Homo sapiens: one gene and its partner. The gene in region 2 interacts genetically with the main gene of each other region. Each region holds a gene or a part of one and is shown on either strand. Other genes may lie near its edges.

What was found. A genetic interaction does not mean that the proteins touch.
Region 1: changes in DHFR (region 2) and CDC73 are lethal when combined (synthetic lethality), as found in Homo sapiens cells (one large-scale study listed by BioGRID).

Annotation. Positions count from the first base shown.
Region 1 is NC_000001.11:193,230,031-193,233,719, forward strand, and holds part of CDC73 (parafibromin), read left to right. Parts: intron 1-2,962; coding exon 2,963-3,124; intron 3,125-3,689.
Region 2 is NC_000005.10:80,637,958-80,641,646, reverse strand, and holds part of DHFR (dihydrofolate reductase), read left to right. Parts: intron 1-3,637; coding exon 3,638-3,689.

The sequences.
Region 1 (3,689 bases), on a different chromosome or scaffold from region 2:
TAAATTTTATGTCAATAAAAATGTTGTATATTCAAAAATACACTAAAATGAAGCAGTGGAGTGCAGATTTGATGTTTGAATTCTTCCGCATTAGAGGAATGACATTCCCATTCTTTTTTTTTTTTTTTTTTCTCCTGAGGCAGAGTCTCACTCTGTCCCCCAGGCTGGAGGGCAGTGGTGTGATCTCGGCTTGCTGCAACCTCTGCCTTCTGAGATCAAGTGATTTTCCTGCCTCAGCTTCCAGAGTAGCTGGGATTACAAGCGCACGCCACCACACCTAGCCAATTTTTGTATATTTAGTAGAGACGGGATTTCACCATGTTGGCCAGACGTCTCGAACCCCTGACCTCAAATGATCCACCCACCTTGGCCCCCCAAAGTGCTGGGATTACAGGCATAAGCCACTGCACCTCGCCCTAATCCCGTATTTTTTTTTTTTTTTTTTTTTTTTTTTTGCAAAGCAACAACCAGGAGCTTTATGGAACCTAAAAATGGAAGATAGCAATAGTAGATGAACCTATTTTGCCTGAGATACATATGAAACAATTGCCTATCACACACCCAGCAGTGCAGCCCAAGCCAGAAGAAATAACCAGTTTTCTGGAGGGATGATGACTGTGATTTATGTAGAATATCATAGTTTAATTGGCAGTAGTTTTTTCCTTTCATAGTGGTACAATATAATGGTGTAGCTCACAATCATTGTGTCTTAGATTTGATGAACTGCAGTAGGGTGAACAGGTAAAATTATATTGACTCTGTGGAATACTAATCTTTTTAGTAGACTTAACTTTAGGGAAGAGGTCATAAGATCTATCCTTATGTTTTCAAATGAGATCCTTGCTGAAAAGCGTTTTGAAATAAAGCCTTTTTTATTGCTAATAGAGATGACTAATTCTAAGAAAATACGTAGATATAATCAGAAATTAACATGCTACAGCATCTAAAAATTCTAGGACGGTGGTTAATTGTAAAAACCACGTTAATGTTTCTGAGCTTTTATAAAACATATCAACCAATGTGTAGACCTGCAAAAGTTGAAATAGGTGTATAATAGACTTTTTATTAGTTTGGTATTGTAATAGATCACTCATTTGTATGTATTTTGCATTCTAGTCATATGATTATAAGTAATTTTGTTTATAAGTTTATAAGTAATTTTGTACAAGTAAATTTAAACTTTAACACCATGTTAAAATTTCAGAAGCCAGAAAAGAGGGAGATGCAGTCTTATATTTAACAACTTAAAACAGTTTAAATCCCATGTAGTTATAGACTGAGATAAAACAAAGCATTTCTCTTGGCAGTAGAATCCCTTTGTTCTGTGTGTGTGGAACATAAGTTCAAGAGGGCAGGGACTATGTTTTGTACAACTATGTATATTATAAAACTTATAGCACAATGTATTGCACATACTATTAAAACATTTTTGTTGTGGCTTTTTATTAGAATGCAATTTCAAACAATGCACACATATTAAATTTTCTAAATAATGTGTTTCATTATTCAAAGTATTAGTACTGTCTGGCATTTTCTAAGTGAGCTTGATTAATAAATAAACCAAATGCCATAGGAAGCAAATGATTATCTGGGGGAAATTTTTAAATGATATAGAAATCTTAACTTTTTAACCAAATGTAAAATGGATGTGAGAACAATCAGCTCAGAAGCAAAGTTCAGTATCATCATTATCACCATGAACTAAAAACTTTCTAGACAATAAAATTAGTATTATGTGATGAATCCAATATGTGTAATTGAAGTTTTTCAGAGAACTCTAATTAGTGCAAGTTCTCCTGTGCTTTTTGGTCCTTTCACCCTTTCATCTCTTTTAAACTTTAGAAGCAGAATGATACTCTCAATATATTGATTGTATTCCCTCCATTTTATTGGAGAGACTAGATCATAGTTAATAAAATATGTTATTGGACTGTTAGGATTATGTATATATTTAGAAAATAAGACTTTTAAAATACTTTGTGAACACTAGCAAATTTTACAGGTGGTAATAGCTATCCAGATTGCTAAGTTATTTTTAAGAATATCTGTCTTGAGAATGGATCCACATAAGTAAGTTGATAAATGCCACTAGTTGATAATAATAGCAGGTTATCAGCATGCACTGATTTAATTTTCATACTTTAAAATTTTCAAGGCTACTCTGAAGTTTGATGGTATTTTTGTAATTTTGCTGAAGCATAAAATCTTAAAAAAAAAAAAGTTTTATGAAGCTCCTGGATAGGCTAAGTCGTAAAGAAGCCTACTAGCCACAACAACTTTTTCATTTCAAATGACCTTTTGATTTCTAATAAAATTCCTCTTTATCATGAAGTTTTCCTCTAATAGAATTTGAGAAATTAAGTATTAGTGTGGAAAATGCTAAGTGCTAGTTGAATGAATATAAATTGTGTGGTGTTACACACACATACACACACACACACACACCCAACTTAGGGTCTGAGTGAGCTTGAGTTCTATTTGGTATACAGAGGAAAGACCTATACACTCCATGATCTGTACTTGCAGAGCAGGTTTATTTAAAAACAAACATCTTTAGTTTAAAACTAATTAATGTTTAAAAATTATTTCAGACCGGGCGTGGTGGCTCATGCCTGTAATCTCAGCACTTTGGGAGGCCGAGGCGGGTGGATCACAAGGTCAGCAGTTCGAGACCAGCCTGACCAACGTGGTGAAACCCCATCTCTACTAAAAATACAAAAAAATTAGCTGGGCGTGGTGGCGGTCACCTGTAATCTCAGCAACTTGGGAGGCTGAGGCAGGAGAATCGCTTGAAACCAGAAGGTGGAGGTTGCAGTGAGCCAAGATTGCACCACTGCACTCTAGCCTGGGCAATAAGAAAAAACTCTGTCTCAAAAAAAAAAAATATTTCAAATTATAGTTTATCTTCCCATTTTCATCACGTGGAATACATTGACTTTTTCTCATCTCTGTTTTTTCAAAGATTTGTCCCATCAGATGAAAAGAAGAAACAAGGTTGTCAACGAGAAAATGAAACTCTAATACAAAGAAGAAAAGACCAGATGCAACCAGGGGGCACTGCAATTAGTGTTACAGTACCTTATAGAGTAGTAGACCAGCCCCTTAAACTTATGCCTCAAGACTGGTAAGATAGTCTCTATATATATATCTTTTCACAGGTGTTGAACCCAAGAGAATGAATGTTGTTATTGCCGTTGATGACGTTGCTTTTTAAGAGATGGGGTCTCACTATGTTGCCTAGGCAGAACTTGAACTCCTGGGCTCTGTCAGTCCTCCTGCCTCAGGCTCCCAAATAGCTAGGACTACAGGTGCATGCCACTGCACCTGGCAGCCTATATTTTTTAAATATTCGTTTGTTTTCTGTATATTGTTGGTTGTTTTTTCTCATGTGAGCAATTATCAAATTTTATCATGGGTTCTAAATAGAAACTGTCTTTGAAAAGTGTGTTGATGTATATTTACTTTGGTCATCAATAATGTTAACATTCTAATAATTCCTCAATAACTTTATATTTTGGATAAGTAAACTTGATTTTACTTATAAGAAGAAACATTCCAACTTCTGGAAAACCCAGTGTAAAAAATTCTTTCCACTTGTTCATTTGTTCCGGATCAGCTTGTAGAACCCAGCAAATTAGGCTAATGTAAGGTATTCTATGTTTAGATTTTTGGTTTGGAGAATTTCAATT
Region 2 (3,689 bases):
GTTATTAATTGGCCTCATTTCAATATTGTTGTGTCTCAGGGAATTGGGAGGCCAGAAGAGGGGGAGAGAAACAGGAATAGCCAGTTAGTGGAGCTGTCAGAACACATAACATGTATCGATTCACCATCTTAAAAGGGCATGATTTATGGCACCCCATAACAGTTACTTGCAACAGTAACAGCAAGATCCCCAAAACGTATTTTAATAATGAAAAAGCCTGAAATATTGTGGAAATTACCAAAAGGTAACAGAGATAGAAAGTGAACACATGCTGTTGGAAAAACTTCACCAGTAGACCTGCTCAGTGCAGGGTTGGCACAAACCTTCAATTTGTAAAAAAGAAAAACACCTTTATATCTGTGAAGCACAGTAAAATGAGGTATGGCTTAGTAGGGAACCCCATTTTTAAAGGCTCAGTATGAAGGGTCTTAAATTGAAGATGTATTTTTGCGTTCTGGTTAAGACACTATTCCATTTCAGGGTTTTTTGTTTTTAAGTGGTTTCCCAACACTCCTCAGGGAAATTGAGCAAGAATTCCATCGGCAGTCCTCACATCAGGAACAGTGAAAAAGGATAATGTTTATATGGCACCCGAGATAATCAGATAAGGCCAGAAGACAAGAGTCAGAGGGTTCTGCCTAATCTAAGCCCCACCATCCTGATGTTTAAGGGCCCCTGAATCGGAGGACCCTGCCACAGGCACCAACTGAAGTCTTTTGTCCATGTAACAAATTGCAGCTCAAGTTTCAAAGTCAAATCTGTTGGAGTTCAACTCGGAGGTCCATCATTTCCCGGCTGTGTGACCAGTAGTTTCTTAACCATTCAGCCTCAGTTTCCTCATCTATAAAAAGGAATGATAGTACCACGTACAATTGCCAGTTAAATGCAGTGTGTACATTATCTCATTTAGTCTTCATGCAAACCTTCAAGACTCAATCACAAAGAAATGTCCACACATTTCTTAACAAAGAATACATATGCTACTACATACCAACTCTCCTTTGTCAGGGAATCCAATCTAGATTGGTTTAAAATAATTATAGGAAAGAAATTCAGCAGTGAAATATGTGACTATATTGGATGCTTGCTATTTGTCATTTACTGTATTTCTAGCGCTTGTGCCATGTAAGGGCTGATGAACTCAAACCGTAGCTCAGCTTTTTGCATGCTCTTTTTTACCCACCTAGAGGTCCAGTGTTTCCTGTGATACTTACCTCTAAACTGCTAAATAGCCACATTTTACGGAAGCATATTCTTCATACCTTTGCTCTAACTTAAATCTCTAACTTTGCACTATATTTAATATGGGTTTTTTGGGGGGAAGGGGGGAGTGGAGTTGGTTTTTTTTGAGACAGAGTCTCGCTGTCTCGCCCAGGCTGGAGTGCAGTGGCACAATCTCAGCTCACTGCAAACTCTGTCTCCTGGATTCAAGCGATTCTCCTGTCTGAGCCTCCCAAGTACCTGAGATTACAGGCACGTGCCACCACACCCAGCTAATTTTTCTATTTTTAATAGAGACGGGGTTTCACTTTGTTGGCCAGGCTGGTCTGGAACTCCTGACCTCCCGTGATCCGCCCATCTCAGCCTCCCAAAGTGCTGGGATTACAGGCGTGAGCCACCACACCTGGCTAATCTGTTCTTCACTTTCTTTTCTATACTCACTACAAAAAAGGGCAAGGAAGTCTTCACAGCTGCACTTACTAACACCGTCACGGCTCTGTTTTGGCCATCATCTGTTTATTAACTAAACTCTCTTCTCTCCCAACTCCAAATCTTTGTTTCTTCTAGATTGAGTTCTCTCCCTGAAGAGCCTAATCCAACCTGGTCCCTGTAACTGCCCTGATACCTTAGGAGATACCTGGGCTTATTTAACTTCTCTCTGGCCACCATGTCTTTTTCCAGCCTGAGTCAAAGTATATTCTTTGCTCTAACCTAATTCTTTTAAGAATGACAGAGTAAAATAAGTAAAATTTATATGAGGAGGGAGAGGGAGGAGGCAATCAAGAGAATGAATAGTCCCTATTCTTGATTAATCCTTATTATAACTATGAGTTCAAGGGCAATTATATAATCTTGTTAAAGCACCAGGCTAAAAACTTGACATGGAATTGTAATTTCTGTTGTGTATCTAATTACTATGAAAGCCTAGTTCTACCTGTTTCATCATTTATAAAGGGAATTGCAACCCCCACCACGACCAACAAAGTAGTTTCAGAGATTGGGAGGGACTAAGCTAGTCAATGTAAACCAAGCTTGTCCAGCCCATGGCCCGCAGGCCTCAGTGTGGCCCAGGATGGCTTTGAATGCTGCCCAACACAAATTAGTAAATTTCCTTAAAACATGCACAGATCTTTTTTTTTTTAAAGCTCATCAGCTATTGTTAATGTTTGTGTATTGTATGTGTGGCCCAAGACAATTCTTCTTCCAATGTGGCCAAGAGAAGCCAAAATATTGGACCACCCCTGAGTAAACACTGAAATTAATTAACTTCTTCCCTTTTGGATTTTAATTACATAAGTAATAATAAGCTCATTTTTTAATACTTCACCCATTCCTGTATTGTTTGAAACATAAATCCTTTCCCCATTCCCAAAGGTAACAACATATTAACAGTCTGAATGTCATTCCAAGCTTTTCTGCAGTCATTCAAACATATCACTCTTTTTCTAATATTAGGAAAATCTTCACACATACAGAAAGAACTTTACAGTAAACTCACCACCTAGATCTACCATTAACATTTTACTCTACTAGTTTCATCACATTTCATCCATCAATTGGTCTTGTTCATTTTTGCATTTCATAATAAACTGCAGACATTAGTATATTTCCACCTAAATACTTCATCATTCATACCATTAATGATTCAGTCTTGGCCGGGTGCGGTGGCTCACGCCTGTAATCCCAGAACTCTGGGAGGCCAAGGCGGGCAGATCAGCAGGTTAGGAGATTGAGACCATCATGGCTAACACGGTGAAACCACGTCTCTTCTAAAAATACAAAAAATTAGCCGGGCGTGGTGGCAGGCACCTGTAGTCCCAGCTACTCAGGAAGCTAAGGCAGGAGAATGGCATGAACCTGGGAGGCGGAGCTTGCAGTGAGCTGAGATCGCGCCACTGTACTCCAGCCTGGGCTACAGAGCAAGACTCCGTCTCATTCATAAATAAATAAATAAATAAAATGATTCAGTCTTTCTTTACAGTTTTTTTCTGAAGTAAATATTACATGAGACACACGTCTTAAATGTACATTTGCTAAGTTTTGATAAATGTATACACCTGTGTAACCCCAGCCCTATCAAAGATACAGAATATTACCTATCACCCCCAGAAAGTTCTCTCCTGCCCTGTCCAAGTTAATCTTTATCCCACCCCTCCAGAAATAACTACTATTCTGATGTTTTTCCACCAGAGATATCACAAGATATCACATGGTTTTATGATTCATTGTGAACCACAGATGTACAAATATAGGTTAAATTATTGGTCAGAGGCCATACTGATGTTAAGTGCTTTTTGTTGAAAGGATTCATATTTATGATGATTTTAGTTCTATAGTCACTGCATCTTAGTCAGATTATTTGACTAGTATGGATGGATTTTACAAACATTTTGTGGAATTCTTTTTTTAACCTTAGGGAACCTCCACAAGGAGCTCATTTTCTTTCCAGAAGTCTAGATGATGCCTTA